4 linked regions of the Homo sapiens genome follow. The protein of the gene in region 4 interacts with the protein of the main gene of each other region in a biochemical or structural test. Each region holds a gene or a part of one and is shown on either strand. Other genes may lie near its edges.

Region 1 (7,676 bases), on a different chromosome or scaffold from region 4:
GGACTCCAGAGAGGAAGTGGTAGAGTCAGTAAGAGCTGGGTGCAGACTCCACCTCTGCCTAGCTCTAAAACTTGGGCTTTTAAGAAAAATGGGAGTGCATTTCACACGTGGTTTTCTCAGGAATTTTTGTGGCCTGGCTTTGTCAGGAGAGGTTTATGGAGGGTGAGGAAATTGAGCCAAGGCTTGACATTTGTGTAAGATTAGGATGGGAGGAAAGAAAGGGCAGTGAGGTTTTGGTTCACACTGATAATAACATCAATAACGGCTTCCGTGTACTGAGTATGACAACATCATATGCGTTCAGGCTCCGTGCTAAAGGCTTCCCGGCCATTACCCATTACTCTTTAAACTTTGCAACAATACTCTAAGGCCTCAGCAACTATTATCCCCCATTTTCCAGGTAAAGGATGTGGGTGCAGAGAAGTAAAGTCATCTGCCTAAGGTCAAACAGCTAAGGAGCAGGGCAAGGCTTTGAACAGCTCTGCCTGGCTCAGGACTCTTATAGCTTTATGTTCAGTCTCAGCTGTTCAGTGTCTGCTGGTTTTCACCCTAAGGTCCTGTCTATTTGGGCTTCTGTTTGCTTCAAGTTTGTTCAAAGTGGGAATAGCCATCTGAGTAAGGTTTTACTAATTTTTTTTTTTTAGTAGAAAATCGGGCCTTTAAGGGAATGGACATATAAAGGACACTGCTTCAATTAAACAGGTGACTGTTTTCAAAAGCTCAACTGAATTTCTGTCTAAGCAGGAGGATGCCAAGCAAAGAAAAGGTACTGCAAAAACATCCAGCATTAATTCGGAGTCTCTGCCCAGTTCCCGCACTCTGCTCTAATGTGCCCGAAGCCATGTAGACAGCTGGATTTAATCACTGTTCCAATCTCTGATCACCTCCCAGACGTATCCCCTGGGGCTCGCTGTTCCAGAGGAAGCATTTGGCTGTTTGCTTGAGCATCACTCGTTTTTGGAGTACCCTCCTTGAAGGAAGAGCCCCATTGGACTCAGCCCACTCAATTAATAATGGTCCCCAAACTCAATAGTAAGAGAGTCACCCCAGTTAATCATGAAGGTTATGGGTCCTGAATTAATAGAAAACGGCTCTACCAGGGAAACTGCTAATTGGAGCAGGAGCTGAAGGCAGCTGACCTGGAAAATGCTCTTTCCTCCATGACCCATTTAGAACCCCCAGCTGTCCAGGCAGGGCGGGCGTGTGAAGGGGAGGACCCTGTGGATGTATTAAACACCTACTATGTGCCCACATCATGCAAGGAGCTTTCTCTTATGTTATCTCATTTAATGCTCTCAAAAACTCTTTTCAATGAGTACTACTATTCCATTTTTTAAAATAAACAGAAGCCCAGAGATGCAAAGGAAGTGGCTTAAGATCTTGCACCTAGGCTGGGTGCAGTGGCCCATGCCTGTAATCCCAGCACTTTGGGAGGCAGAGGCAGGAGGATCCCTTGAGCCTGGGAGATCAAGGCTGCAGTGAGCCATGATCACTCCACGGCACTCTAGCCTGGGCGACAGAGCGAGACATTGATAAAACAAAACAAAACAAAACAAAACAAAACAAAACAAAACAAAAACACCTTGTGCCTAGAAAGTAGAAGGGTCAAGATTTGCAAAGGGTCCCTTGATCTCCAAAATCCCCTACTTTAAAAGTTGCAATTCCAGGGGATGCAAACTCAAATGCCAAGAGGAACCTGGCAGATAACACAATAGCGTCAGCACTAGTAATAGTAATAATAACTTCCAAGGGGCTTGGAGCAGAGTGCCAGCCTCTATTCTAAGTGATTTACAGTATTCAGCTGTTTAGTCATCAAAGAACCCAATGTGGAGTGCTATTATTATCCCCAATCTGCAGATGCCGTCAAACAACTTCCCCAAGGTCCTGCGGCAATTAATGCCTGAACCAGGATTTGAACTTGGAGAGAATTGGCCAAATGAGAACGTCTGAGAATTACAGAGGGCAAGCTCCAACTACAGAGGGCCATGGTTTCCAATCCAGCTGACTGGTGCTTTGTAAGAATGACAGGCCAATGTGGCAAGATCTGATTTTTCAAGAGAAACCTGAAAGCTGAATGTTTTTGAGAAATCTCTGGATCCTTATATGCTGGTAATTATTAAACAAACTAAAAGCTCCAGGTACCACCTTCTCTCTACCCGCCCCCACCCTTCAATAACTTGTCTACGGGGGCCTGTGGAGGCCTTCGTGTGTGCCTTTTTTTTCTTTATGGGCTTTGCTTGGGTTCCTAATGCACCTCTGGGACTCCCCTCTCTATTCTTCACTTTCTTTCTCCCTGCCTCACACCCTCAAAGAAAATATTTTCAAGCAATTCACTTTAGATGTTCGGGATTGAGACTAATTCACAGGTGGTTTCCCCAGGGATACATGCATCTTAGCCTATGCAGCTGAGGTGCAAACCTTAGGTGATTCATTGAGAGTGGGAATTTAGGCAGTGTGACAAGGCGCTTTTAGGCTGAGAGGCTGGCCCAGCTATTCCAAACTGGGCCAAGCCTCAGATTGGCCTGCCTGAGTTTCCCAGCTTTCCTTCACCCAAGACAGTGCATCCAGCATCTGGCTGGGGTCAGGAAGAACAAAGTAGGGCATGAAAAGTCTGCAAGCATCCCACAGATCTAGGACTGGCAGCCCTGGTTTATTCAGACACACAGGTGGGAACCCACTGATTAAGGCACGGCCATGTTCTAACCTGTACCACTGGGTGGAGGGAGAGCAAATCCTTTATTAGTATATTATGTGTAGAACATATTTTCTGGGCGTCTAATTCTATTGCTTTCAGGCTTCCATCAGAGTTGAAAAATCACTTCATTTGGACAGTATTTTTAAAGGCAGTGGTCTGCAAGCCAAATGGAGACTTTTCCAAAATACTCATACCCAGACTTAATCTCTGGGGTAAGGCAGAAGCATGTGCATTCTGGTAAGGCACTTCGGGTTATTCTGATGGCTCCAAAGGTGAGGGTCGCTGATCTTTAGGATCTCACAGAAGTCACTGTGAGTATGCCCTGGTCCAACACAAGATGCAAAACAAACAATCCTTCCCCATAAACACACATCCTGCTTTCTTCACAGGTGCCCTGTGCATAAACCGTAGATGTCCAAGCGTGCATGCCCTTTTAGCCATTTGTGTGTGTGTCTGGGGAGAGGAGACAGTGGGATTTTGAGTACATTGAATTTCAGTCTGCTTATCTAGAGAATTCCTTAACCTCAACACGGCGTGGTATTTTTTAGAACAAAAGTTGCACGCTCTTAGTATTAACTAAACACATACAGCAGAGCAGGGCAAGATAGCCTGAGTTGTGCAAAAGACCTCTTGTGCCCTTTCCCATGACTTCCAGCTCTTTGACAAAATCTCTGTGCTTTCTACCTCATTCATTCAATAAGCATTCCCCTGTGCTGGTTCAGAGACTGCAGCCCAGCCAGCAGCAAGACGCAGCTGCAGGCAGCTCTCTACAGCACTTCTGTGCAAATCAGAAAAAAAGCTCTCTCTCCTCCGGGAGGTAGCAGCTCCACATCAGGGTTCTCATATTGGCAAATGGAGTGAAGGGTGGAGTTCAGGCTGTGTTCCCCCCTGGTGGGGTGTTCTTGGGCAAGGTACAGCCCACATGCCTTTATGTGGTGGTCCTGGTCACAGCTTTAAGAGATGCACTTACCCCTTTGCAGATGGCCACAGCTTCCTTGGACATAGACTTGGGATAGGCTACGTTGTGTTCCATGATGGATTGGAAGAGTTCATCTTCATCCTCCCCTTCAAAGGGTGCCTGTATGACAGGGGAGGGTGGGAGGAGAAGAATCCCTGCTTGAACCCTCCCCCTAGCTCCCCTCAACTGGCAGACCCTCCTCCCTGGGGCCCACAGTGAAGCCACACACCCAGGCTTTCAAATGACCACAGACTTGTATGACCCCAAGGCCGGGAAAGTCATAGAGGTTCCAATTTATGAGCTGTTACCAAACATGCATTCTCCTAAAGAAACCATGTGGATGGGGGTAGGGAGGACTTCTCTTATCGATCACTTAAAATTCAATTACCTGCCCAGCCAACATTTCATACAGCAGGACTCCAAATGCCCACCAATCCACGGACTTCCCATAGGGCTGATAAGCAATTATCTAGAAAAGAGAAGGCACCCTATCAGGGAGGTTTGCAGTTCATGTTTCTTCTGGAGACAGATTTCACTCTTCTTTTACAAGAAGGCCAGTGCCCACCTGAACTGTTTCTTTATATTAGCTATTCAGGGAATGACAGACATGCTTTGCAGAGGCACCTGCAGCTGGGCAAACACCTGTGGCTGTCACATTGCCTTTTCGAAGCACTAAGTAAGGTGTATTGTTATTATTATTTTCAAAACAGTGAGCATGGAATTTTTAAAAGGAAAAACTGTCTTTACTCCTCTGTAAAAGTTACAACATTTACACAATAATGTAAATATACTTAACACTACTAAATTGTATACTTAGAACTGGTTAAAATAGTAAATTTTACGTTACATGTTTTTAAAACATAATTAAACATAAAAACGTTTAAGAGATAACAACATTTGTCACTATTTTAATATTTCTTTATAAAAGATAGCTCAGCTGAGATAATAACATGAAAATCACCCATAATCCTTTATTAAGAGAAAAATTATGACTAATATTTGGTCTACTTCATTCCATACTCTTTTCTCTGAATACATATTAAACTCTGTGTGTATGTGTGTGCTTTACATAAACACTTTAGTATTTGGACGATTTTTTTTCTTTTTTTCTTTTCTTTTTTTTTTGAGATAGTGTCTCTTTTTGTCACCCAGGCTGGAGTGCAGTGGTGAGATCATAGCTCACAGCTCACAGCCTTGGCCTCCTGGGCTCAAGCAATCCTCGCACCTCAGCCTCCTGTGTAGTTGGGACTACAGGTGCTCACCACCATGCTAATTATTTAATTTTTTGTAGGGATGGGGTCTCTCTATATTGCCCAGACTGATCTCAAACTCAAGCAAAGCTCCCATCTTGGCCTCCCAAAGCACTGGGATTATGGGCAATAGATCTTTAATAAAGCCAGTTATTCACTTAAGTTTTCCTTGCTAATTTAATATTTGTATATGAACATAATCAATTTTTATCTGTGCATAGCATTCCGTTGAATGGATATACCAAAATCTATCTTATAAATTTCCAGTTGATTAGGTTTCTTCCAATGCTGTAACATATATTCTTGTAATTAGACATTTGGACATCTGTCCAAGTATTTCCTTAAGATAAACTCCTAGATGTAGAATTGGTGTATCATATGGTATATATGGTTGTGAAGTTTTTAATTCATATTCCCAAACTGCAAGAACATGGAAAAGTCTAGAAGAGCTATGTGATTGTCCATCTTTCAGTATGCAGGGATGTAAAACTAACCATGTCAGAGGTTAAGAGGTAATACAGCAAAGGCTAAAGGCTGAGGTCTGAGGGTTAGGCAGTCTGACTTTGAATCCTGACTGCTGTCTACCGGTTGGCTGTCTGACCACAGGAGAAGTTACTTAACTTCTATAATCTCTATATCATGAAGTTATGTGAGGATGAATGAGATACTCGGTGGCTTTCACATATTATGCCCTCAAAATGTTAACTAATCCTAGAATGTTTTATAATTCAGTTATTGCTTGTTTAACTCAAAAAGGGTATTTGAGCAAACTTGGCTATAAAGTGAATGTTTGTTTCTTGATCTCTATCTCCCACTTTGATTTCTATTCCAAAATCAGAAATGCAGAGATGTTGATTACAGGATACAAAATTTCAGTTAAGTAGCAGGAATAAATTCAAGAGACTTATCGTGTAACACAGTAACCATAGTTAATAACAATCTATTGTATTCTTGAAAATTGCTAAGAGGGATTTTTAAGTGTTTTTACCATAAAAAAATAAGTATGTGAGACAATAAATATGTTAATTAACTCAACTTAGCCATTCCACAATGTATGCATATTTCAGAACAACATGTTGCACATGATAAATGTATACAATTTTACTGGTCAATTATGAATGAATGAAATGCATTCTGAGAAGTAACCCTCAAGACAAGGAAGGGAAAGCATTCCAGGAGAACACTTCTCATTGAACGTGTTTTCCACTTTGGGAGGCCGAGGCGGGCGGATCACGAGGTCAGGAGATCGCGACCATCCTGGCTAACACGGTGAAACCCCGTCTCTACTAAAAAAATACAAAAAAAATTAGCTGGGCGTGGTGATGGGCACCTGTAGTCCCAGCTACTCGGGAGGCTGAGGCAGGAGAATGGCATGAATCCAGGAGGCAGAGCTTGCAGTGAGTAGACAGAGTGAGACCCTGTCTCAAACACACACACACACACACACACACACACAAGAAACAATGTGGGATGCCCAAGCATCATCCCATTAGAATCTCTGCAGGTGGAGGCCCAGGATCTGTGGTTCTCAGAAGTTCCTCGCTGGTCGTGATTCAGGCAAGCACAAGAAACCCTCAACTGTGTGGCTGGTGAAGTTGCCTCCCCTCCAGCCCACAGATGGGAGGGATAAGCAGCAGGTCAGGCTTTGTCATGAGCTAACCACATCACCTTCGGCAACTGCTGTCACATCCCAGGCTCTAGTTTCCTTTGTAAAAGGATTAACTTGTTGGCTTGTCATGAGGATCAAATAAGACTTGAAGTACTTTAAAAGTGTGGAAACACTTTCTTTCTTTCTTTCTTTCTTTTTTTGAGACAGAGTCTCGCTCAGTCGCCCAGGGTGGGGTGCAGTGGCATGATCACTGCTTACTGCAGCCTCTACCTGCTGGGCTCAAGTGATCCTCCCACCTTAGCCTCCTGAGTAGTCAGGACAGCAGGGGTGACCTAGTGCACCTGGCGAATTTTTAATTTTTTTTGTAGAGATTAGGGTCTCACTATGTTGTCCAGTCTGGTCTCAAACTTCTACCCTCAAGCGATCTTCTTGCCTCAGGCTCCCAAAGTGCTGAGATTACAGGAGTGAGCCACCATGCCCCAGCTGCATCCTACATTGTAAAAGCTCCCTCACGACTCTAAACTGCAGTTAGAGTTGAGAACCAGAGATTATGGAACCCCTGGCCTATCAGGAAGTTGTGTTATGGATTGTGTCCTATCTAATTAATTAACAAAATGATAATAGACCAAAGCATATCACATAGGGAAAACTTCACTGGGTCCGAGTAAAGCCTTATTATTTTTAAAGAATTACTTTATTACTCAAGTAATACCCAAATACATTTACCTTGTAAAAAATGTCAGCAGTATACAGAAATAGCTAAATTTCTCTTTACAATTCCCTTATCCTCAGAGGTAACCAGTGTTATAAAATCAGTTTGAAATCTTCCAGATTTTTGTATGCTTTTACTCATTGAAAACAGAACAGTGTTCTGTGTATTTCTGTTTCATCCATAAATAGTATCATAGTGTTATTTGTCATTCTTCTTCTTTTTTTTTTTTTTTTTTTTGAGACAGGGTCTTACTGTGTCACCCAGGCAGGCTGGAGTGCAGTGGCATAATCACGGCTCACTGCAGCCTGGACCTCCTGGGGCTCAGGTGATTCTCTTACCTCAGCCTCCCAAGTAGCTGGGACTACAGGCATGTGCCACCACACCCGGCTAATTTTTGTATTTTTTGTAGAGACGAGGTCTCGCCATGTTGGCCAGGCTGGTCTGGAACTCCT
Region 2 (7,771 bases), on a different chromosome or scaffold from region 4:
GCCTTGTACACCTCAGTTGCTCATCCCAAAGGAAATGTCCTGTGATGTTACTGAAACTGTCAGCTAATATTTCCAATGCTCGTATGATCTATGTTAGTACTTAGGGAGCTCCTGAACAAAGTGAATGAAAAACTTCTTAACACATTTAAAACAACAGATGTGGAAGACTCAGAAAGATCAGGAGAACCTTCTGCTGTAAGTTCCACACGACTTCAGCCCACATAGTAAATTGTAAATGATTTCAAACCCTCTGCTCTCTCCTGAAACATCCAATCCCCAAACTCCTGTCATCCTTCCTCATAGCTGACGTCCTCATAAGGTACTTCCAAAAAAAAACTGAAATAAAAGACAAAAGAACTCCCTCCCACTTCCTTAACTCCACACTGACACTCTGCCATTCCTACTGTCACAACACACAGAGATCCTGTATCCTGTGATGGACCTTCAGCTCTCTTAATTTTGTTTCTGCTGGGATAATAATATATTCTGAAAGAGATGACAAATGACAGAGAAATTGAAAAAGTCCTCTGTCCAGAAACACTATCCAGTATATATTTATTTACAGTATTCTGTATATAAATAACCCTCAAGTTCACATCTATAAATCTAACCCCAACTTTTTTATAACCTAAAAAAAAAGTGAGATCTTTACCTTAACTATTCCAAACAGTCAAACTTTTCAAACTTCTTTGAGAGAGAGAAGAAACTACTAGAATAAATACAAAAGGAAAGGATTCCCCTTATAAATCAGTCACCAATCAGGGCTGATGATTTTCCCTTTCCAGTATTTCTCCCAGTCTCTCCCCCAAGTCTTGACTCATGTTCCAACTAGCTCATGACTGAACTTCGGTGCTCTTTCTGCCATAACATTTTTGGCATTCTAAAACCTCCATACAGCAAATCCATCTTTCAGATGTCCTTGGTATGATGTCGCTATGAAAAGATTACTGAGGCTTCTAGCAATTTGAGTTTAATTCAAGGCCTTTTCATAACTGTACTTCCCTTAAATACCCAGGCCACCACCTGCAGGCCTGCTGCATTCCATAGGTGCTTGCTGTCCCTCTCCCTCTGCTCTCGTCTCACTCTCTCCATGTAACACGCCCCTTGGTAGCTTCTGAGACACCTGGAATTCACCCTCCATTTAAAATCCCACTACCAAACCTCTTGAACTAGGCATCAGTCTCCCCATTCTGAACTCCAGGAGGAAGTGGGGGGCGGGGTGGAGGGAGAATTCAAGCTGGTCAAAACAAAGTCTATCAATATTACTTTGACCCAATTTGAATATTCTCTGACACTACTTCACTTGCTTTAGAATTTAGAAAAGTTAAAATTGTACAGAATTACCTTTGCTTTTTGAGAAATTTTGTTTTACATTGTATACGTGCTTATGAAGCATTGCTGTTTCATTAACTGGTCTGCATCCAAATGGAGAGGATTGTATACAAGGCTTTCACAGTGCCTAGGAGTGCTCCTGCTGACCCACAATAGACATTCCACAATACTGATGTGGAAAAGGAGCATGATATGACTTACATCAGCATTAGACAAAACGTGTCATTTTCTTGGAAGTTGCAAACAGTTGACATTACCCGTAATATAAAAGTAAATTTCCATAAATAAATTCCTGGCACTCATTGTTACCTTAGTCTAGAACTTTCACAACTTTCTAGATCAGTGATTTTTTTCCACCTGGAGCTTTTAACATTCCTGTGCTCAGTGCTGCAATTCACAACCCTTAAGATTTAGCAAACTCTGTTACAAATAATTTAAAGAAAGCAATTCATGATTATTCAAGTGATAATTAGAAAGCAAAAGGAGTGCTAGCCAGTCCTCCAGGGCTGAAAAATTCAGCACCTTTAGAGACCTCTGTCTCCACTCCTGAAACGCTGGCTGTTTACACTAAGAAGACTGGCGCCATGGCCCCCTCTGCCTCACGTCTGTATCACCCCCTTCCATGCAACATCCATCTGGATGGCTCCAGAGGCAACCTGAAAATCCAAATTGCTACTGTAAACAGTGGTGGGTGGGCTGAGTCTCCTCTGGGGGTGGCCTGGCCCCGGATAATGACCCTTCTAACCTGCCTTCAGTGGCCGCTGTCCAGAGCCCCACAGCCTCAAACTTAAGGACACAGCCAGCCTCGGGGTGTTCCTGGACATCACCCCCACCACTTCAACGTCCTACTATCAGCATCCCGGGAATGAAAAATAGGAAGGTCGCAACTTTCAGGTTTTGTCGTTGGAAAATGTGTTTCCATGCTCATACAGAAGTGGAACTAAAAGATGACAAGGCCTTGGGTACCTGCACTCCTGGTCAGTTGTTTTGACAACTGGCCGAGTCAATCACACTCTCTTAAAAGCTTATCTGACAGGTGAGAAATTCCTTGTCTCCAGGTCATTCCGGGGGCACTCTGGTGCAGGAAGGAGGATTCCTGCACCAGGAATGCGCTGGTCCAGGGTCCGTAGGGGAGAGAGGGGAAGAAAACTGGGAAGTCTCAAGGACAAGGAGGGGCGCGGCGAGGAAAGGGCAAGATACCTGGAAATGTCATGAGAAGGATGGAAATGGGTGAGGAGGCGGCGGACTGGAGAGAAATCGGTGAATAGAGGAAGATGGGGCGAGAGGAGGATGAGCAACAGCGAGCGCAGCGCCTCGGGTTGCAGGCGTCCAGCCGCGGCGGGGCCAGCCGCTTCCAGAGCGCCGGCGAGGCTGGCGGCCAGCCGAGCCCCGGGAGCCGGAAAGTTGGCGCGGAGAGGGCCAGCCGGGCAGCGCCCCCTGCGCCGCGGGGAGGCGCCGGGCTGGCAGCGGTGCGGCGACTTACCTTCTGGTCGACAATGGAGCAAGCCATCTCGCGGACGTGCGCCAGGCTGTAGTCCCCGGACGAGTCCTGCAGCAGCAGCACCGGCTCACGGCTCAGGCCGATCTGCAGATGGAACGAGATGCCCCCGACCGGGGCCGCGACAGGAGCCAAGAACGGCGCGGGCCCGGGCCCGGACCCTGGGACCAGTGCGGCGGCCGCTGCGGCAGCTGCCGCCGCCACGGGCAGCAGCGGACTGGGCGGCCGCAGGACCGGAGGGGCGCTCATCGCTCGGCGGGGCGCAGGGCCGGGCAGCGGAGGGCGGGGGCTGGCGGCGCGGCAGCAGGAAAGTTTTGCAGCCGCTGAGCCAGGAGCTTCTTTCTCCGAGAGCCCAGACGGAAAATAAAAACTTTCCGGAAAAGTCCCTGGGCTGGGGGAGGGCAAGGGGATGAGGATCGGGAGGGGAGGGGACTAAGGGGAGGAGATGGGGAGGAGGGAAAATGGCCGAGGCGGGAGGACTCTGAGGCCCGGAACGCGGCAGCCGGCTCGGGGCCGCCGGCACTGGGGAGGCGCCGCCGCCGCCAAGAATCTGCCGCCTGGCGCGCTCGGAAGGACGGGGCGACGGGTCGGCGCGGCCCGAGCGCCGGGCGGGGGCCGGGGCGGGAAGGGGGCGTGAGGGGCGGGGAAGGGGAGCTGGGGGCGGGCACTGGGGAGCCACCACCCGGCGGGCGCGGGAGTCGCAGGAGCAGCGGCCGCAGTGGCCGCAGGGTGCCCGGTCGCCGCCCCCTCCGCCCGCAGTTCCCGGGGCCTGAGCCTCCGCGAGCCGGGATAGGACCGAGTGGCGGGGCTCGGAGCCGCCTCGGCAGGCGCGGCCCTTCCCTCCCTGCAGGGATTCCCGTCCTCTCGGGTCCCGCTGCCCCGCCCCGACTGCGGACGGAGTGGATGGGGTGCACCGCCTCAGACCCGCTTCCTGGGGTCGCGAACTTCCCGGGCCCCAAGGTCCCTGCCACCTCTTCCAAATGCTGGAGGACTACGCACTTCTACAAGTGAGGTGACTTTTGAGGAATTCAAGAATGCTGATCACAGCGGTTCCCCTTGGGTCTTACCTTCGGAGGGTCAAGGGAGGATGGGTCATCTGGAACCCACTTACATCCAGGCCCCTCTGGGAGCCCTGGGGTTTGTGGCCAAAGAGGGTAGGAAGCCACTCCACAGAAAGGGGTTTAAACTTGTCTCTACCCTTTTTGTCGCTCTGACGCGCCCTTACAGCCAAACCTACGTACTCCACCCCAGCTCCTAAGGCACCGGATATACACAGTGATCTAAGGAGAGGGTCGCTTTGGAAAGAAAAGGCATTGACTGCCCAAGGGCAGGAGGGAGGTCTGATGCGGTCTCCTTTCCTTTACCTTATTCTTTGCGCCTGAAGTTTCTACTTTGGAGCTTCAGAAACTATTTTCCTTCTCCTCTATCAATCTAAAGTCTGTTATATAGGAGCAGTGCCCCCAAGTCCACCTCAGCACCGCCACCGTCATCACAAGCACAGCCATCAGGATTGGGCACAACCTGCCCTAATTTGGATCGCCGTTTATTTTTACTGTTGTTTTGGCAGGGTGGGGATTGCTTTACATTCGCTGGAGATGAATTATAATTCTCCCCTCCAACCAGGGTGGGCTTCATGGGTGTGCGACTATGCAGTTGTATAGGCCACAGCTCATAAGACCCGTGTTTGGTTTAATATTCTGGGACAATAGTCTACTGTCGCTGTTTTGTTCTTCTTCATAATTTTTAATCAAGGAGTCTCACATTTGTATTTTGCAATGGGCCACGCAGATAATGTAGTCAGCTTTGCCTCTCTCTTCGCCACTTCCCTAGACTTTCCCCTTCCTCTGCGTAAGTACACACAAACATACCTAAACAAACATTTTGTATTTTGTATAGCTTATTTTGTTCTGTTTTATTTATTTATTTATTTATTTATTTATTTATTTATTTATTGTCTTAACTTCTGGTTGTGGCCCAAGATATTGCAAGGTAGCTTCCTTTAGAACCGTGTTCCCAGGGTCAGTAATGGAGCCCCAAACACTGCAAGGCTGCACAACTGCATTGAAGAGACTTGAATTTATTCTCTGAATGTGATGGTTTGATAAGGTCTACCTGTGTTTACATTTTCCCTGCATAGTTACTTATGAGGTGGTCCTCTTCATCCCTGATACAGGTAGGTAATTTTCCTAATGTTCTAGACTCAGCTAATCTAGGAAAATGGTGGAATTTTTCTTGATGAAATGCCTTTCTGAATTCTGAAGGAGGTTTTTTTCTTTTAAATGTCCGAAACTATACTTCATTTTCTTTGAAATCAGAATAAAGTTAATATTCCACAGTTTTCTATTATCAAAAAAAAGCTTGCTGGTCAGTTTACAAGAGACTTACAAAAAGCTAGTTTCACTTGAGATTCAAGAGCGCTGAAGACATTCATGTTTTATAGATATCACAACTGCATGTTGAGGACTTCTCTGTTCCAGGCACTGTACTGGCACCAGTTGCACAGCTGTGAAGACAGGTGGTCCTTGCCCTAAAAAGATCACAGTGAAAAGGGGAGGGGGGATGGAGTAAAACCACAAATGATATTATTTCTAATATTCATAATTGCAATGAATTTTTTAAACCCAATGGCGAAGACAGTGACTTGTGGGAGGAGGGATGAAGAAATGGGCACTGCTCTGGACTGGGAATGAGAGAAGACTTCACTGAGAAGTTTACATTTGAGCCAAAATCTGGATGATAGAAAGGGTAGACTTCAGAAGAACTAGGGGAATAACATTGTAGGCATAGGTAACAGAGAGTGCAAAGACTCTAACACAGAAATATATTTAACATTTTCAAGGCATAGGAAAAGAGGGGCAAGTGCGTGAGATGAGGTCAGAGAGCTAATAGAAACCAGGTTACCAGGAGTCTTGAAAGCCATGGTAAAGTGTTTTTATTTCAATTCTCAGTGCACTACCAACCCATTGGAAGGTTTTAAAGCAGGGAATAATAAGATTAATTAGCATGTTTTAAAAGATTACTCTGGATTTTGTGTGGAATATAAGAGAAAAGAGTAAAAGTGGAGACACTGGGTAGGAGACTATTGCTGTTTTTGAGTCTAGAAACACGGGTTAGACTCCTATGGTTGTAGAAGAGATGCTAAGAAATGGGAAACTGCAGGCTCTATGTTGGCGGAAGTTCTTGCTGAATGAGTCAGAGATTTACAAGGAGTGAGAGAACAAGGGTGTCACAAAAGACTCCCAAGTTTCTGAGCAATTGGACTGATGGTGGTGCCAATAATTGACACAGAAGATAGAGAGTGAGCAAGTTCAGGGAGAAATAAGATTTCTACTTTGACCATGTTGAGTTTGATATGCTGCTAGATATTCAACTTAGAAATAGCATCTAGAGCTGGATATATGGGTCCAGCATCCAGAAAAGAGAAGAGGGTCAGAAATACATTTAGAAATCTTCTCAGTGTGCAGAAGGCATTTCAATGTGAGATTAGATGAGAGCTCTAGAGAGAAAGAGCTTAAAGTACTTATCAGTTATGAGACTTACAGGAATTTTAAAAAAAGTATGAATAACTTCTTGTTAGACTATGATTTATCAATAGTATGAAAGATTTATGTAGGGTGTTGGAAATAATTGATAAGGAAACAGGAGAAGGAATTCTAAAGATGCCCTAGAGAATTAACATTACTTTTAAGACGGTGAAATATTACTGAATGCAAAAGAGTGAATAAAGAAAAACAAGAAGAAAAAAATCGTGTATCTACTGGACCTCCCCATCGCAAACAGAAAATTCCCATGGAGTTGGTTATTGCAATTTCTATTGTAGGCACCTGAAATCTAACAGTTTTCCAACTGCTGCTCACTTTTGCTGAATGACAAGGGAATGAATAAACAGAGAATATCTATAATAAACCTGGTGTATATCTCTGGCAACTTTGAAATTGAACATAGAAAACTTGAAGGATTTGGGAAAATCTGGTTTTAATCTCTTCTGGATGTTTTAATCTTGGAAAAGAAAAGAGGATATAGAAAGTGAATAGTAGCTTATATTAATTATATTCATGAAATGGGCTTTCATTATTTTAATCCTGGCTAACAAGACAAGAATAAGGGACTTCTAGCAGTGACTGGGAGCACCACTTTGTAAAGAAAGTTTCATGCCCTAATGAAGACTCCACATAAAAGTGATGTGGACCTGCAAGGGTAAGAAAGTTTCATGCCCTAGGCCTAGGCTCACGCCTGTAATCCCAGCACTTTGGGAGGCTGAGGTGGGCGGATCACGAGGTCAGGAGTTCAAGACCAGCCTGGCCAACATAGTGAAACCCTGTCTCTACTAAAAATACAAAAAATTAGCCGGGCATGGTGGCGGGCACCTGTAATCCCAGCTACTTGGCAGGCTGAGGCAGGATAATTGCTTGAACCCAGGAGGCGGAGGTTGCAGTGAGCTGAGATCACGCCATTGCACTCCAGCCCGGGCAACAGTGTTAAGACTCCATCTCAAATTAAAAAAAAAAAAAAAGAAAGAAAGAAAAAAAAAGTTTCATGCCCACATAAAAGTGATGTGGACCTGCAAGGGTATGCAGAGTTACGTGGAGGTACTTCCAACAATTTCCAACGATGAATGTTAATCTTGTCAGGTTGTCTTCAAAAGATAGTTGTATGTTCAAGTCATTTTGGAAATATACAATAATTCACAAAAATCAGAAAAAGGGCTGAGAATAACCTGATTTGAGTGGCACTCAGCCTCACTCACTGTATGCTTTGTCCAAATTAAATGGACAGCAGAGAAAGGAAAGTGAGAAAAAAAAAAAGTGCAAATCTGTGGCTGAAAGGATCATATCCCCTCGTCCAAACATTTGCCAGCTTAAGAAATTGAGGATTACAGAAATTATATACCAATGTGGAAATCAGAGATTTGAGGGAGAAAGTATGGTTCCAGTATATCCT
Region 3 (7,676 bases), on a different chromosome or scaffold from region 4:
ATGAAACACAACTTATTTAGCCTCCCCAAACCTACAATACTCCAGAAGGATTCAATTTAGGTAACTGAAACACAGAAAGACAAATAAAGTTCCCAAAGTCACCACTGGCTTTTTTATTCACACCAAGCAACACTTCATATCAGTTATTCACTTACAGTTTATGCACAGTGTAATATTATTACTAATTCCGAACTTTCATTGGAAAGATAAAGTGAAAACAAATGCTGTCATAAAAATAGAACACTAGGCCGGCGCGGTGGCTCACATCTGTAATCCCAGCACTTTGGGAGGCCGAGGCTGGCGGATCACCTGAGGTCAACAGTTCAAGACCAACCTGGCCAACATGGCAAAACCCCGTCTCTACTAAAAATACAAAAATAGCCGGGCGTAGTGGTGGATGCCTGTAATCCCAGCTACTCGGGAGGCTGAGGCAGGAGAATCGCTTGAACCCAGGAGGCGGAGGTTGCAGTGAGCCGAGATTGTGCCATTATACTCCAGTCGGGGCAACAAGAGCGAAACTCCGTCTCAAAAAACAAAATCAAAAACAACAACAAAAAAACACTAAGTAAGTAACGAAAAAACCACCAGCCCTCCATTCAAGTTTAATTAGTGGTAGGGATTTTTCCTCTGGTGGGGGGGTGGGGGTGGGAATGTGTCTATTTTTTAAGTAAACTCCTTATGCTTTTGGTGGCACCGTGGAAGCAGAATGAATAAAGCCAGCAGTTTTTTTCTACTTTTTAAGCAGATTATTGCTCACACTAGGAAAGCAAGGGAGTGAATTTTATCAAAGCCTGGGGGCTATCCACACTGTTATTTTGCTCTTTCCTGTGGTGTAGGAGGTTCTATTCTCATGCTGGGGAGACGAAAATACGTCAAAGGAACACCAGGGGTGTTCTGGAAGATCGCTTTGCCACTTATCTACCATGTGTATGCCACTATCTTCTGGAGGTGGATTAATTCAATATTTTGTAAATTAGATTTTGAGAAAAATTGGGCAAGAGTGCAAACCTTTCCCTCCACCCTGCCACACACCCTGACTCCCTGGTTTAAATGGTCTCTCACTGGAGTGACAAATTGATGAGTTTACAATCAGCCCTTCCCAACACTCAGTTTTAGCTCTAAACTCAAAGAGGTTCATTTTAACATTACAATTATGCATTTACTCAGGAGTAGTGGTAACCAAATAATACTACTCTATTCTCAGGAACTACCAACTCATTGAGAGCCCTGTAATCATACCACAATTATTCTTGTGGCAAATTATAATTAAGTACCTCTTCACAATCAAAGACTCAAATTACAGGATAAAAAATAAAACCCTAAATAAATTGAGTACTGTGACCAGTAAATGGGGTCAGAAGCATCCCAACAAACCATGTCTGGTGTACTTCTCTTAGCCGAATAAATCGCAGGCAACATTTTATCTTTAGTTTTGTTGCAGGCTCTTGGTGGATACATTCCCTGCTTAGACCCACCATCTGTTTCATTCTTGTCCCCTGCTCTTACTTCCTATAAGACAGGTCCTTCTGGAAGCTGCCTCTACTCTTTCTCTGTTTTAGAACAAATCCAGTTTGTACAAGAGGAAGTCTTCCTCTCTCTCAAGTATCTGTGTTTGGGCAGGGTTTAGTGCTGCTCTGACTATGAGGAAGTAAGCAAGTCTCTCACTAGCCATCGCCCCTCTGAGCAAAAGGTGAAATGGCCTCCACCTCTAGATCATTGAGCTAGAGGTCTACCAGAATTGCCATGATTTGGTACCACCTTCTTTGACTGCTTTTCTCCTGTTTCTTATGATCCAGTCCAGACTCACACAGCCTGAAAATGTGGTAGCTCTTCCTTAGGTGCCACTGGTCCATCACTCAATAATGTGAAAGGAAAGGGATCCATTTTTGAGTCCTCCAGAAGGTTGGTGTGTAACACACAGCTCTGAGTTAAAAAGTAGTTAGAGGGTAAAGCTTCTGTGGGTACTTATTGTGAAAGGCCCCATTTTTTTTTTTTTTTTTTGAGACGGAATCTTGCTTTGTTGCCCAGGCTGGAGTGCAGTGGCACGATCTTGGCTCACTGCAACCTCCATCTCCTGGGTTCAAGCAATTCTCCTGCCTCGGCCTCCCAAGTAGCCGGGATTACAGGCGTGTGCCACCACACCTGGCTAATTTTTGTATTTTTAGTAGAGGTGGGGTTTCCCCATGTTGGCCAGGCTGGTCTTGAACTCCTGACCTCAGGTGACCTGCCTACCTTGGCCTCCCAAAGTGCTGGAATTACAGGTATGAGCCACCGTGCCTGGCCAGTAAAGGCCCCAATTTTTTTAAAACAATTTCAGTAGCCTACAGAGTCGGTTTGACCACAAAATATGCACAATGATGGCTAACCCTGAGCTCCACTCAGGGTGAAGGGTGGAAATGGAAGTGACTTGAATGTCTCAAACATACAGACACACACACACACACACACACACACACACACACACCACTGTTGTTTATAGAAAGAAAGAAATGGGGGAGGAGAAAAAATAGACACAGAGCTCTTCATTTAAAATATGGAGTTCCAGTGTTACAATGTCCCCTTTATTAAATTATAAATGCAAAGATTTTTACAGGGCCACCTTTTGCAGCCTCCCAGCTCCCTATGGAGCAACAGAATTCAGAAAGACGAAGCTTATTAACAAGAGTGCAGCCATCATACAAACTGCAGTATGCCAAGGAATTAATAGAAATAGCACTTGCAGAATCAGTAAACTAAACCATCTTGGGCTCTTATCTTCGCTCATAAGATAAAATACTATTAAGAATAATAAGTCCAGGCGCAGTGGCTCATGCCCGTAATCCCAGCACTTTGGGAGGCTGAGGCTGGCGGATCACTTGAGGTCAGGAGTTAGAGACCAGCCTGGCCAACATGGTGAAATCCCGTCTCTATTAAAATACAAAAAATTAGCCGGGCGTGGTGACAGGCGCCTGTAGTCCCAGCAACTCAGGAGGCTGAGGCAGGAGAATCGCTTGAACTCGGGAGGCGGAGGTTGCAGTGAGCCAAGATCGTGACACTGCACTCCAGCCTGGAGTCTCAAAAAAAAAATAAAAAATAAAAATAAAAAAAAAAAAGAAGAAGAATACCAGAGCAAAATTCAGAAAACTACACAGCCAGCCTATGATTGGGAAGAGTCTATGAGATATGATTTAAAATAAAATAACCAGTCAACTGTACTTCAAATGACTACTTAGCCAAAATATCCAAGAAGTAGTGTTTTCTCTTGATTTCTCCTTGAAAGCACTACTCAATTGGCTAGGAAGATTCTGGCCATTCCCTGTCTTTCCTTAGGGGGATGGAATGGAACTTCTGTTCCTTTCAGTGACTTCTACCTGACAGGCATTTTACAGGCATTATTTCATTTATTCCTCACAACAAACAGATGAGGAAACTGACACAGAGGTTATGTGACTTGTCCAACCTCATCCATCTGTAGCTCTTGGTATATCATCTATAGCCCTTGCTTTTTTTGTGGTGTTTCACTGCCTACCGGAGGGATTTTTGTTCGTTTATTTGTTTTTTGGTCTTTGATGAGGTTGATGCCATCTGCCTTGGGGCCCCTGTCATTCTCCATGGCTATCATCAAAGAGCAGTTGTGACAAACTCCTCTCCATTTTCTAGGAATGTTCAGCAAGAGAGGAAATGGTGGTAAATACAGGAGATAAGAGAGTATTCAAGATCCTAAGCTCTTTCCTCTGCAATATTCCTCCAGGCTGGTAAGGATGATCTGTCTCTGGTAACTGTCAACTATACTTTTTTTGCACTTGAGGACTCTTCTTAGTCTTGCCAGGTTTTCTTACATTTTCCCTCTTTAAATCATTCCCAAGGAGATTCTGTCTAACTAGTGAATTTCTAGAGTCACTTGTTGTTTCCTTTCCTGGATGTTTCATTGTTGATGGAATGAAAGCACAGTGTTTAGGTGGAACATCCACCCTTCTCTGTCCCTAGGGTTCTTATTGCTTACTGTGAATATAAAACTTTGATCAAATATACCTTCTATTTTTTTGAGACAGGGTCTCACTCTGTCACCCAGGATGGAGTGCAGTAGCAAGATCACCACTCACTGCAGCCTCCACCTCCTGGGCTCAAGCGATCCTCCTGCCTCAGCCTCTCAAGTAGCTGGGACTACAGGTGTGCACTACCACACCCAGCTAATTTTTAATTTTTTTGTAGAGACACGGGTCTCACTTTGTTGCCTAGGCTAGTCTCAAACTCCTGGATGCAAGTGATCTTCTTGTCTCAGCCTTCCAAAGTGTGGGGATTACAGGCATGAGCTGCTGCACCTGGCCTCAAATATACTTTGTTTTATATTATGAAATATTTCAAATAGAAAGTACAGGGACTATAACATTACAATCTTGGACTCACCGCTTAGCTCTACAAAATCCTAAAATTGTGCCATATTGCCTCACGTGTTAAGAAGTGAGATACAATCTATATAATCAAGACCCCTTTATGTACTCCAAAATCTTAGTCTTCTCCCTCCATAGAGATTACCAATATCTTGAGTTTGGTGTTTATCATTCCTAGGTATGTTTTCATATTATTATTACAGATGTAAGTATCTATAAAAGATATATAGTATTGGTTTACATGTTTAAAATTTACATATGGCCAGGTGCGGTAACTCAGGCCTGTAATCCCAGCACTTTGGGAGGCTGAGGCGGGTGGATGACAAGGTCAGGAGTTTGAGAGCAGCCAGCCTGACCAACATGGAGAAACCCTGTCTCTACTAAAAATACAAAAACTAGCTGGGCCAACGCTACTCTCCCAGCTACTCAGGAGGCTGAGGCGGGAGAATCCCTTGAACCCGGGAGGCAGAGGTTGCAGTGAGCCGAGATCTTGCCATTGCACTCCAGCCTGGGCAACAAGAGTGAAACTCGGTCGCGAAAAAAAAAAAAAAAAAAAAAGAAAATTTATATATATATATATGGTACACATTCTCCAGCAACTTGCTTTTTTCCCCTCAATATAATATGTTAGGATTTATTTATCTGGCTAGTTCTACTTCATATGTTTTAATTCATTTTTATATGCATAAAATATTCTATATGATGAATACATTCCAATATATTTATTCATTCTCCTGTTGATGGACATTTAGGTTGTTTGCTTTCAGTGATAAACAATGCTGCTGTGAACATTATTTTGATTTTTTGATCTCAGAATGAATTCTCAGTTACTTAGACAAACTGGCAAACCTAGGTCCAGCTTATCTTTTGGACTATGCAATTTGCATCATTCCTTCTTGCCTTTTCAGTCCTGTCTTCCTGATGCTTCACTATGAAATGTGGTAGAATTATCAACTATCTCTAGTGGGAGGTTAAATTTGGCCTACGGAAAATCTCTTCCCAGTCCCAAGAAGCATCCTTCACGTTCTAACTGAGATTTCAATTGAGAATTCCTTGGCCTTGGGACCAGAAGAGAACGTGTTAAGAACTGAAATACTATCTATATAATCAAGACCCCTTTATGTACTCCAAAATCTTAGTCTTCTCCCTCCTTAGAGATTACCAATATCTTGAATTTGGTGTTTATCATTCCTAGGTACGTTTTCATATTATCATTACAGATGTAAATATCTATAAAAGATATACAGTATTGGTTTACATGTTTAAAATTTACATATGGCCACGTGTGGTAGCTCATGCCTGTAATCCCAGCACTTTGGGAGGCTGAGGCGGCTGGATGGCAAGGTCAGGAGTTTGAGAGCAGCCAGCCTGACCAACATGGAGAAACCCTGTCTCTACTAAAAATACAAAAATTAGCCTGGCGTGGTGGCGCGCACCTGTAATCCCAGTTACTCAGGAGGCTGAGGCAGGAGAATTGCTTGAACCCAGGAGGCGGAGGTTGCAGTGAGCCGAGATCGTGCCACTGCACTCCAGCCTGGGTGACAGAGTCAGACTCCGTCTCAAAAAAAAAAAAAAAGAAAAAAGAAAAAAAAATCATACCCACAGCAACAAAGCAACCTTTAATCTTGTTAAATTCCCAAGATGCTTTTGTTCGGGCCCCAGTGAAACCCAATTATTTTATGATAAGCTTCATAGTCAAGGCTACAGGGGACCAAATTTGTGATGAAGGCATCAAGCCAAACTCAATTTTCGAAAGCTGCATGCTGACCAGGGAAACTCTCCTGCTGTAGTCATTTACAGGAGGCCTTAGGGCTCTCTGGTTCTTCCACAGCAGTTCATGTTTTATTTATTTATTTATTTATTTATTTATTTTTGAGACAGAGTCTCGCTCTGTCATCCAGGCTTCGGTACAGTAGCGCAATCTTGGCTCACTGCAATCGCTACCTCCCAGTTTCAAGCAATTCTCTTGCCTCAGCCTCCTGAGTAGCTTGGACTACAGCCGCACACCATGACACCTGCCTCGGCCTCCCAAAATGCTGGGATTACAGGCTTGAGCCACCGCGCCTGGCCTTATGTTTTTAGCATTTTACATTTTTCTTCTGTGGTTTTGGAAACTTCTAGGTCTCTGTGATTCATCATCTCTTTTTGTCTTGCATTAGCGACAATATATTCTGGCCAACTGATGATGGAAGGAGAGCCAGAGAGCCAATCTGCAAGTTTATAGTCAGTGCCAGATCAGATCAGTGGTAATACTTTCAATATTCTCCCTCTGCTCTGAGGGTGACTGCTGGGGTGTCTGTCTTTCACTCTGGACTTGTGTGCCCTTTTGGCCTTCTTTTTCAACCTAGTTTTTGTTTTCCTTGGCTTAAACATTTTATTTATTTTTTCCATCGATATCAAAATAACACACGCAGCTGGGTGCAGTGGGGTGCACCTGTAGTCCCAGCTACTCAGGAGGCTGATATTGGAGGATTGCTTGAGCCCAAGAGTTCAAGGTCAGCCTGAGAAACATAGGGAGACCCCCATCTCAAAATAAAACAAAATATAGTAAAATAAAACATGCTTATTGTAGAAAATATGTCAAGTACAGGGATATAAAAAAGAAAAAATCATTCATAAACTCATCCAGAGGCATTAATATATCGGCATATTCCTTCCATTTTTTTCTGTGTGTGTTTCTTATAATATTTGAGATCATATTGCACATTCAGTTAATTTACCTATTTTTCGTAACATCTATGTATGTATGTATGCATGTATGTATGTATCTATCCATCCATCCATCCGTTCAAGGTACCTTTTTCCAAAAAAAGATCTAATGTTCTTATTTAACATTATTCCTAATTATTTTCCCATGTTATTAGGATCTCTATACAAGCATCATTTCCAGAGTCAAAAAAGTATGTGCATTTTGCATTTTGATACATACTGCCAAAATAGTTTCCAGAAACATTGTCCCAATTTCAGTTCCAAATAGTTTTAGAGAGCCCCCTTTCTCATTATCCTTATCTCTTTTCTGGTCCATTTCTAATCATTTTTAAAACTCTGGTTTTACTGCAGACAAATCTTTTTTTTTTTTCATTGAGTCAATGATCTTAAACTCCAGTATATTCCAACTTCCAGCTTGTCTAAAACTTAACTTCTCTTGACTCTAGAATTTCCTTCTTCTAGGGTGAGCTAACAGACTACAGTTTGTTTTCAGTTCAGGGAGGTAGGGCAGTGAGAGGAGCTTCTCCTTGAGATTCAAATAACCAATATAATCCTAAAGACATCTTGTGAGAACTTTCTAAGAGCGGAGAGAAGAGC
Region 4 (7,511 bases):
CATAAGATTCTAAAGTTACATTCAAATACTGCCACCTTGTGGGTTATTCTTTGTTTCCCCATCCCACCCTTTAATTTGGTGGAAACAGATTCATCCAGGCAGTTCATTTCAGGTTATGTCAATTAAGTTGCTAAGAGTTGTACTAAGAGCTTCATATATATAATATATACATTATATTATATATATATATAAAATCTCATTTAAACTTCTTAAGAACTTTATGAAAGCAATACTATTAACCCTATTTCAGAGATGAGGAAACTAGGCTTAGAGGGTTTATGTAACTTGCCTGACATCTCACAGATAGTAAGCATAGGAGTAAAACTTTATATCTGGGCACCTTGCCTCTAGAATCCTTGTCTCCAGGAGTAAAACTAACAAATCTAAAAATAAAACAGTGTGATACATTATATGACTAAGTGATAGAAGCAGTATAAAGGGAATAATTGCTAGGAAAGGCCATCCGGAAAGTCTTCACAGATATGTGGGGAGGTGACCCTCTGTAAGTAAGGATTGGAAAGATAATGATTCTATAGGAAGAACGCAGCTGGGACCATACACCTGAATCCAGAAGAACACAAACACCCTATGTGGCCTATTGTTTTGTCTGCCTCACCCTGCTTTCTTTTGGGGAACTACTCTTCACTCTGCTTTAACCATGACTCTAATAGAGGATGTCAATCATGTTATCCTTGATTCCTCACCTAATCCAAGCCGACATGAGTCCGTCAGGTGCCTAGAACTTTTGTGCTTGAGATAATAGGCTCAGTGCTATCTTCCCTAATGGCAAACCTGAGGTGAGATATGTGATTTATGTGAGGTACTTAATTTGTGTGCCAGAAAGTTGTAGTCAACCAGTGATGTCCTGTAGAAGATGGTGTGGAGTAGAAGAGAATGAGGCTAAACAATAAGGTTCCAGTCATCTCTAGGCCAGCTGCACTATTGATCTTCCTCTAAAAATCATTCTTGTAGAACCTAATCAGGTTTGGGTTTCTAATCAAATTCTAGTGTTTTCTCTTCTGCCACCAGCACTGTCATTTCCTACTCCTATACAACTTGAAAGACAGCAAAATACACATAATGATGTCAGTACTTTTAATTATAAAGGATAGTACTACCAATTTATTTTGGAAAAATGGTATTTAGGGAGTTTATTATAGATGCCATGTGGCTTAGAAATATTTCTGCAGTGCTCCACTCTTGATGCCTGTACTATTCTTTTTCTACTCCCTCCGCCCATCACTGCAATCTTTTTATTTATTTATTTATTTATTGAGACAGAGTCTCGCTCTTTCACCCAGGCCGGAGTGCAGTGGCGCTATCTTGGCCCACTGCAATCTCCACCTCCCAGGTTCACGCCATTCTCCTGCCTCAGCCTCCCGAGTAGCTGGGACTACAGGTGCCCGCCACTGCGCCCGGCTAATTTTTTTTGTATTCTTTAGTAGAGATGGGGTTTCACCGTGTTAGCCAGGATGGTCTCGATCTGCTGACCTCGTGATCTGCCTGCCTCGGCCTCCTGGGATTACAGGCATGAGCCACTGTGCCTGGCCCATCACTGCAATCTTTTAAAGTCATCTCTGGTTTTTTTATTTTTTACTTTAAAAAATAAAACTACTTTAGAAACTCTAGTCAATTATTTTTCCAAACTTTGATTTTTTTAATCATTCAAGTAATATTTAAATTATTGCAATGAAAATTACAAAAGTCAAAATGATAGAAATTAAGAATCACCCATAATCCCACCATAGAAACAATCATTGTAGATATATTTTGACCTATTCTTTCATGTGTAAACACAAAATTTTTTTAAAAATCAAACAAAATGGCTCATTTTGATTTCTTCCTCCCTTAACCACATCTACAATATATTTTTCATTTAATTGTATTTCATTTGTACTATTTCCTAATTATTTTAATATTTTGTCTTGCAAATAACCAGTAAGTACTTTTGAAAGCATCTAACTTTCCTGGGAAAAGGGGAGCAATTCTACATTCCTTTGACTGGAATGTTATTTCTTTCCTGCTTCATCTACTTATCTCCTCGTTATCTAGTTATCTGAGTTATCTTCTGCTCAGTCTTTAGTTCATGTGTCACATCTTTTGGAAGTCAGATAAATCTATCAGATTAATACTTATAAACGTTGCAATTTATTATGCTTGGGAATATCTGGGTCTACATGTATTTTTGTTCACTGTTGGATCCCCAATGCTTACCACAAATTGTCCGAGACCTGGTAATTTTAACTTTTATTTATTACTATTTTTTGAGACAGGATCTCACTCCGGTTGCCTAGGCTGGAGTGCAGTGGCGTTATCTTGACTCGTTGCAGCGGCGTGATCTTGACTCACTGCAGCCTTGATCTCCTAGGGCTCAGGGTATTCTCCCACTTCAGCTTCCTGAGTAGCTGGAATCACAGGCGTGCGCCACCATGCCTAATTTTTTTTTTAATTTTTAGTAAAGGCGGGGTTTCACCATGTTGTCCAGGCTGGTCTTGAAATCCTGGGCTCAAATGATCCACCTGCCTCTGCCTCCCAAAGTGCTGGTATTACAGGTGTGACTCACCTTGCCTGGCCGTAACTTTTAAATTAATGAATGCCTGCTTGGACTAATTCAGCCACTAAGGAAATACTTTATTCATTAGCACTATTTATGAAGTATTATTGTGTGTGACTAAGGCTCTCTGCTAAGTGCTATATATCTCTATCATTACATTTTCACAACCCCAAAATACATTATTTCTCCCATTTTGCAAATGAGGAAACTGAGGCTTCAGAAAAGTGAATTAACTTGCCCAGATACAAGAGAGAGAAGTTACGAACTCAGGTCAATGCATTTATTTACACTAGCAGCTTTATTTGCCATTATTGGCTTCTTTGTTCATGAATATGAAAGTCATTATATGTAGCTTCTTTTTTTAAATATCTGGAGATACAACTTAAGCTTATTTTCTTTCTTTTTTTTTTTTTTTTTTGAGACGGAGTCTCACTGTCACCCAGGCTGGAGTGCAGTGGCTCGATCTGGGCTCACTTCAAGCTCCGCCTCCCGGGTTCACGCCATTCTCCTGCCTCAGCCTCCCCAGCAGCTGGGACTACAGGCACTTGCCACCACGCCCAGCTAATTTTTTGTATTTTTTTAGTAGAGGTGGGGTTTTACCGTGTTAGCCAGGATGGTCTCGATCTCCTGACCTCGTGATCCGCCCGCCTCGGCCTCCCACATTGCTGGGATTACAGGCGTGAGCCACCGCGCCCGGCCAACTTAAGCTTATTTTCAAAACCACTCAATTTTGACATTACAAACTGGTTTTTGTTTTGTAGAAGGACATTAAGAATAAAGAGCAAAGAAACAATTATGTGCTGGGAAGGGCAGTAGGAGGGCTGGGTCCTAGTCTCCCTTTCTCTTTCGCTAAGCAGCTGTGTGGCTTTGGGCTAGTAACCTACCCTCCCACAAAAAAGGCTTCAAAAGAGAGCAAGCAGAGCTCAGTGGGCATTAAGACATGCGCAACTCCTTTCTTTTAGAGATTAGATGAGGTCGACTCAGTGGCTTGTAAAACTCAACGTGGCAGAGCTGTACAGCCAACTCATGATTCTTAGTGTCGTTTGTTTTGAGTCACACTACACCTCCTTGAACAATCATTTACTGAGTGCTTACCGTATTAGGCATTCAGCAGCAGTGTGTTTCCCATTCAGTAACCTAGTATTGATTATTGGCTACTGTCCCTCCTAGCATTTTTCACTTGACCACTTTCTAAATGGCCTTTAGATTCAGAGTTCAAGTGGAAAAAGCCTAGTGTAAGCCTGGTGTCAGGCAGTGAGTGGCGTGACCCGGGTCGGCAGCTAGTCCTACGGTGGTGATCTAAGAGGGCAGTGACGCCTTCTGACCAAGGGAGTGACTGCCAGATAATCCGGGTGTATGGAGATCCAGAGAGGGGTGAGGCTGGGTTTACGGAGACTACACCTTTGGCTTTGCAGTAACCCCACTGCTAAGGCCATGGGAGGAAACTCTTCTGTGCAGGACGCCTATGCACTTGGCTTCTGCTGCGTAGCGACCGGGTGTCCAAGGCATCCTGCCAGGTCTCCTTCTCCACTCGGGTTTAGCCTCCCCCGCGAGTCTCCAGCTACCTAGAGAGACGTTTCTAACTACGAGATGGCTGGCCTGAAAGGGACACTCCCATCACCGTTGTTGGCCTAGAGTTCCCCGCTGCGGCCTTTTTCTTTTCCCCGCCCCTGGCCTGAGTCAGCGGCCCCAAGGCCGGCGAGGTCAAGTTCCTTTGGGGCGCCAGGGAAAAGGCCATGGCAGAGGTGCTGCCACGCGAAACCTTCTGGGCAGGCACCAGCCAATCATCAAGAGACATACAGGAGCCCCAGCCAACCAGCGCCCGCCTTATTACTGGGAACCGCCCGCTCGGGCCCTTCCTCTACATCCCCGTTCCCGATTCCTGTAGTAGCGGCTGTATTGCAGCCGCCTGCCGAACTGACCCGGGTCTGGGGACTGGCCCCTCTGGCGCCGTTCGGTTTCTCTTATTGCCTTCACTGAGGATGAGTCCCTTTGTGGCTCTATGTGGACCCTGCGGAATCCACCGGCGCAGTTTCATCTAGCGACTGGTGAGGGAGGGCTTGGCGCTGCCCGACCGTGCGGTGCGGCTTCCCTTCAGCCCGGGGGCAGGGGGAGAGTATTCGCCTTCTGGAGGGTGCGGGTGGCTGCGGACGGCGGCGCGGGGGGACCGTGGGGAGGGGACTCTGTGGCCCCGAGGCTGCCGGGCTTCGCGCGAGGCGGCGCGGAGAGGGCCGAGTGGCCAGGGTCCCTACCGCCCCCCTCAGCTAATGAATGGCCTGTCCCGGCGATGCGCTACGCTCCCGTCCTGCTGGACACGCCCTCCAGCGACATTGCATTCCTAGTTGTGATAGTTATGTAGTGTCACTTTCCTTCGAGTCTTGGATTTGAAGCCATTCCTGTGGGCGCTCATGTTCCTTATCCCCTTCCTGGAGTCACAAGTTTGAGTCCACCCTGGGGATACTGACTCTGGGGAAGCAGGTCGTGAAATCTGATAAGTGGACATTGATTGCTATGTAAAAAGGAACTGATTCTTTTTGGAGGGTGGAGGGTTGAGAGAGACAGAGAAGACAGGCCCTTTGTTTTTGTAACAGGCAGAGCTGTCTGGCTCAAAGAGTTTTAGTTCAGCTGCGAATTAGGTAACATAGGCCGTCCTTGACTCCTGTTTTCCAACGTAGTTCATAAAACTTGACTGTGTTAGCCAGAGATTCATGTAGCACCTTTTAACTTATGCCTCGAAGTAGGCCATTTGAAATTTATCAGAAATACTGAAAGGATATGACTTTTATGAGTAGTAGTGTTTCAGTGCCCATAAAGTGGTGTAAATTCACAGGCTTGCCAGCCCCCTCTTGATCATTTCTCTTTTTGTATTTTGAATTCCTTAACTTTTATTTGTTTTAGAAATTGAGGCAAGGTAGATGAGGACAAAACTGGTTTCTAAAAATAATTACATTTGCAAATATTTGCAGAAGCTTTAGTCAAACCAGAGTTTACTTCAAGAAATTTTTTAGGCCGGGCGCGGTGGCTCACGCCTGTAATCCCAGCTACTGGGGAGGCTGAGAATTGCTTGAACCCGGGAGGTGGAGGTTGCAGTGAGCCGAGATCGCGCCGCTGCACTCCATCCTGGGCGACTGAGTGTGGCACCATCTCAAAAAAAAAAAAAAAAAAAAAGATGCCTGTAATCCCAGCAGTCTGGGAGGCCAAGGTGGGCGGATCACTTGAGGTCAGGAGTTCGAGGCCAACTTGGTGAAACCCCGTCTCTACCAAAAATACAAAAAAATCAGCCAGGCATGGTGATGTGTGCCTGTAATCCCAGCTACTCGGGAGGCTGAGGCAGAATCGCTTGAGTCTCCAGCTGCCCTACCAAACTGCTTTTGAATTCAATTATTTTGAATTGAATTCCATGGTACTTTTTTCTACTACACTATACTACTTGCATTGAAATTTTTCTAACTGCCTTTTGGGAGAGCAGTTTGGTAGCATAGAATAGGTGGGATCAAGAGCACTTTTCTGTCGGTATTATTTTAGGTAGGCTTTTTAAACTTTCACATGAATCTCCTCATCAGAAAATGAAAGTGATCATATTTACAGGGGCAATAATAAGGATTATATTTATGTAGAGCACTGTGTATAATGTATAAAACAAAATTTCACCTATAATTTTTGTGTGTTTTTTCCGTTGTTTAATTTTGTTTTGCTTTACTCACTTCCAAAGTATTGACCCCTTACTCTTCTTTCTAGTTTCCCTATCTGTTCTCCAAGCCAGAAACCTGGGAATTACCACCACATCTTGTCAATTCAAGATCCTAAGTATGTCTTTGGATTGCCTGCCCTTTTTTTTTTAAATCTCTAAGAAAAGGCACATAAGGCTGTTCAAAATCCTGTCTATCCTTGTGTGTATGTTAGGCCTCACTTCTTTCTGTCTTCTGAATTATTTAGAAATTTTGGAATGGACCAAGATGATTCTAGTTCTTTTATATTTACTATCCCTTCTGCTTCAAATGTGCTCTCACCCAGAATTTATCAGGCCAACACATATGGTACTCTTTTTTTTTTTAGAAGGAGTCTCGCTCAGTCGCTCAGGCTGGAGTGCAGTTGCATGATCTTGGCTCTCTGCAGCCTTGACTGACCAGTTTTAAGTGATCCTCCCACCTCAGCCTCCAGAGTAGTTGGGACTACAGGGATGTGCCACTACGCCTAATTTTTGTATTTTTTTTTGTAGCGATGGCTTTCACCATGTTGCCCAGGCTGATTTCAAAGTCCTGGGCTCAAGTGATTTGCCTGCCTCAGCCTAACAAAGTGTTGGGACTACAGGCATGAGCCACTGTGCCTGGCCAGTACTCATCTTTTAAGTCTTAGTTTATACATAGTTTATCTCCTGTAGAAAGTCTTACCTGGACCCCTCTTCTGCACTCCCCGTTCCTATGTGTCACTTGTTTTATCTTGACCATAGGTTTATAATTATGATATGTTTTAGTTACTTGCCTAAATAAAATTACTCTCTTCTACCAAACTGTGACCCTTTGATAATAGGAACTGTGTAATAGATCATAAGTTTTGTTCAGTTAGTACATATGTTAAACTAGCTATGCATCCACCTGAGTATTATCCATGAACCTGTATTTTATTTTATCTAAAATATTTAGGTCCTAATTATTTTTGTATTCCCAATGCCTTGTGACCTACTATGGATGCGCTGAAGAAGACAGTGTAACGTAGCAGAAATAGCACGGACCTCATCATTAAACAGATCTGTATTTGAAGTCTGACTCCCTCTTTTCTTGGTGGTATGATTTAGGTGGTTTACTTGACTGGTCTGATGTAAAGCATTCCGTATGTATTAGGTCTTTAAATGCTTATTTCCTTTGCTTTCTTCCCCTTCTTTAAGCAGTTTTTGAATGCATAGATAAGAAGTACAATAGGCATTGGAAATATGGGCCTGGAGTTTAGGGCAAATATG

The links.
Region 1: of the proteins of IBTK (region 4) and PRKCB, one has a biochemical effect on the other in vitro, tested with the Homo sapiens proteins (one study listed by BioGRID).
Region 2: of the proteins of IBTK (region 4) and PRKD1, one has a biochemical effect on the other in vitro, tested with the Homo sapiens proteins (one study listed by BioGRID).
Region 3: the proteins of IBTK (region 4) and BTK form a complex in vitro, tested with the Homo sapiens proteins (2 studies listed by BioGRID).

Annotation. Positions count from the first base shown.
Region 1 is NC_000016.10:24,181,557-24,189,232, reverse strand, and holds part of PRKCB (protein kinase C beta type), read right to left. Parts: intron 4,123-7,676; coding exon 4,042-4,122; intron 3,774-4,041; coding exon 3,666-3,773; intron 1-3,665. UniProt on the Homo sapiens protein: Calcium-activated, phospholipid- and diacylglycerol (DAG)-dependent serine/threonine-protein kinase involved in various cellular processes such as regulation of the B-cell receptor (BCR) signalosome, oxidative stress-induced apoptosis, androgen receptor-dependent transcription regulation, insulin signaling and endothelial cells proliferation.
Region 2 is NC_000014.9:29,924,434-29,932,204, forward strand, and holds the start of PRKD1 (serine/threonine-protein kinase D1), read right to left. Parts: upstream 3,415-7,771; 5' UTR 3,080-3,414; coding exon 2,816-3,079; intron 2,664-2,815; exon of another isoform or gene 2,533-2,663; intron 1-2,532.
Region 3 is NC_000023.11:101,376,101-101,383,776, forward strand, and holds part of BTK (tyrosine-protein kinase BTK), read right to left. Parts: intron 1,924-7,676; exon of another isoform or gene 1,759-1,923; intron 1-1,758. UniProt on the Homo sapiens protein: Non-receptor tyrosine kinase indispensable for B lymphocyte development, differentiation and signaling. Binding of antigen to the B-cell antigen receptor (BCR) triggers signaling that ultimately leads to B-cell activation.
Region 4 is NC_000006.12:82,244,653-82,252,163, reverse strand, and holds the start of IBTK (inhibitor of Bruton tyrosine kinase), read left to right. Parts: upstream 1-4,419; 5' UTR 4,420-4,602; intron 4,603-7,511. UniProt on the Homo sapiens protein: Acts as an inhibitor of BTK tyrosine kinase activity, thereby playing a role in B-cell development. Down-regulates BTK kinase activity, leading to interference with BTK-mediated calcium mobilization and NF-kappa-B-driven transcription.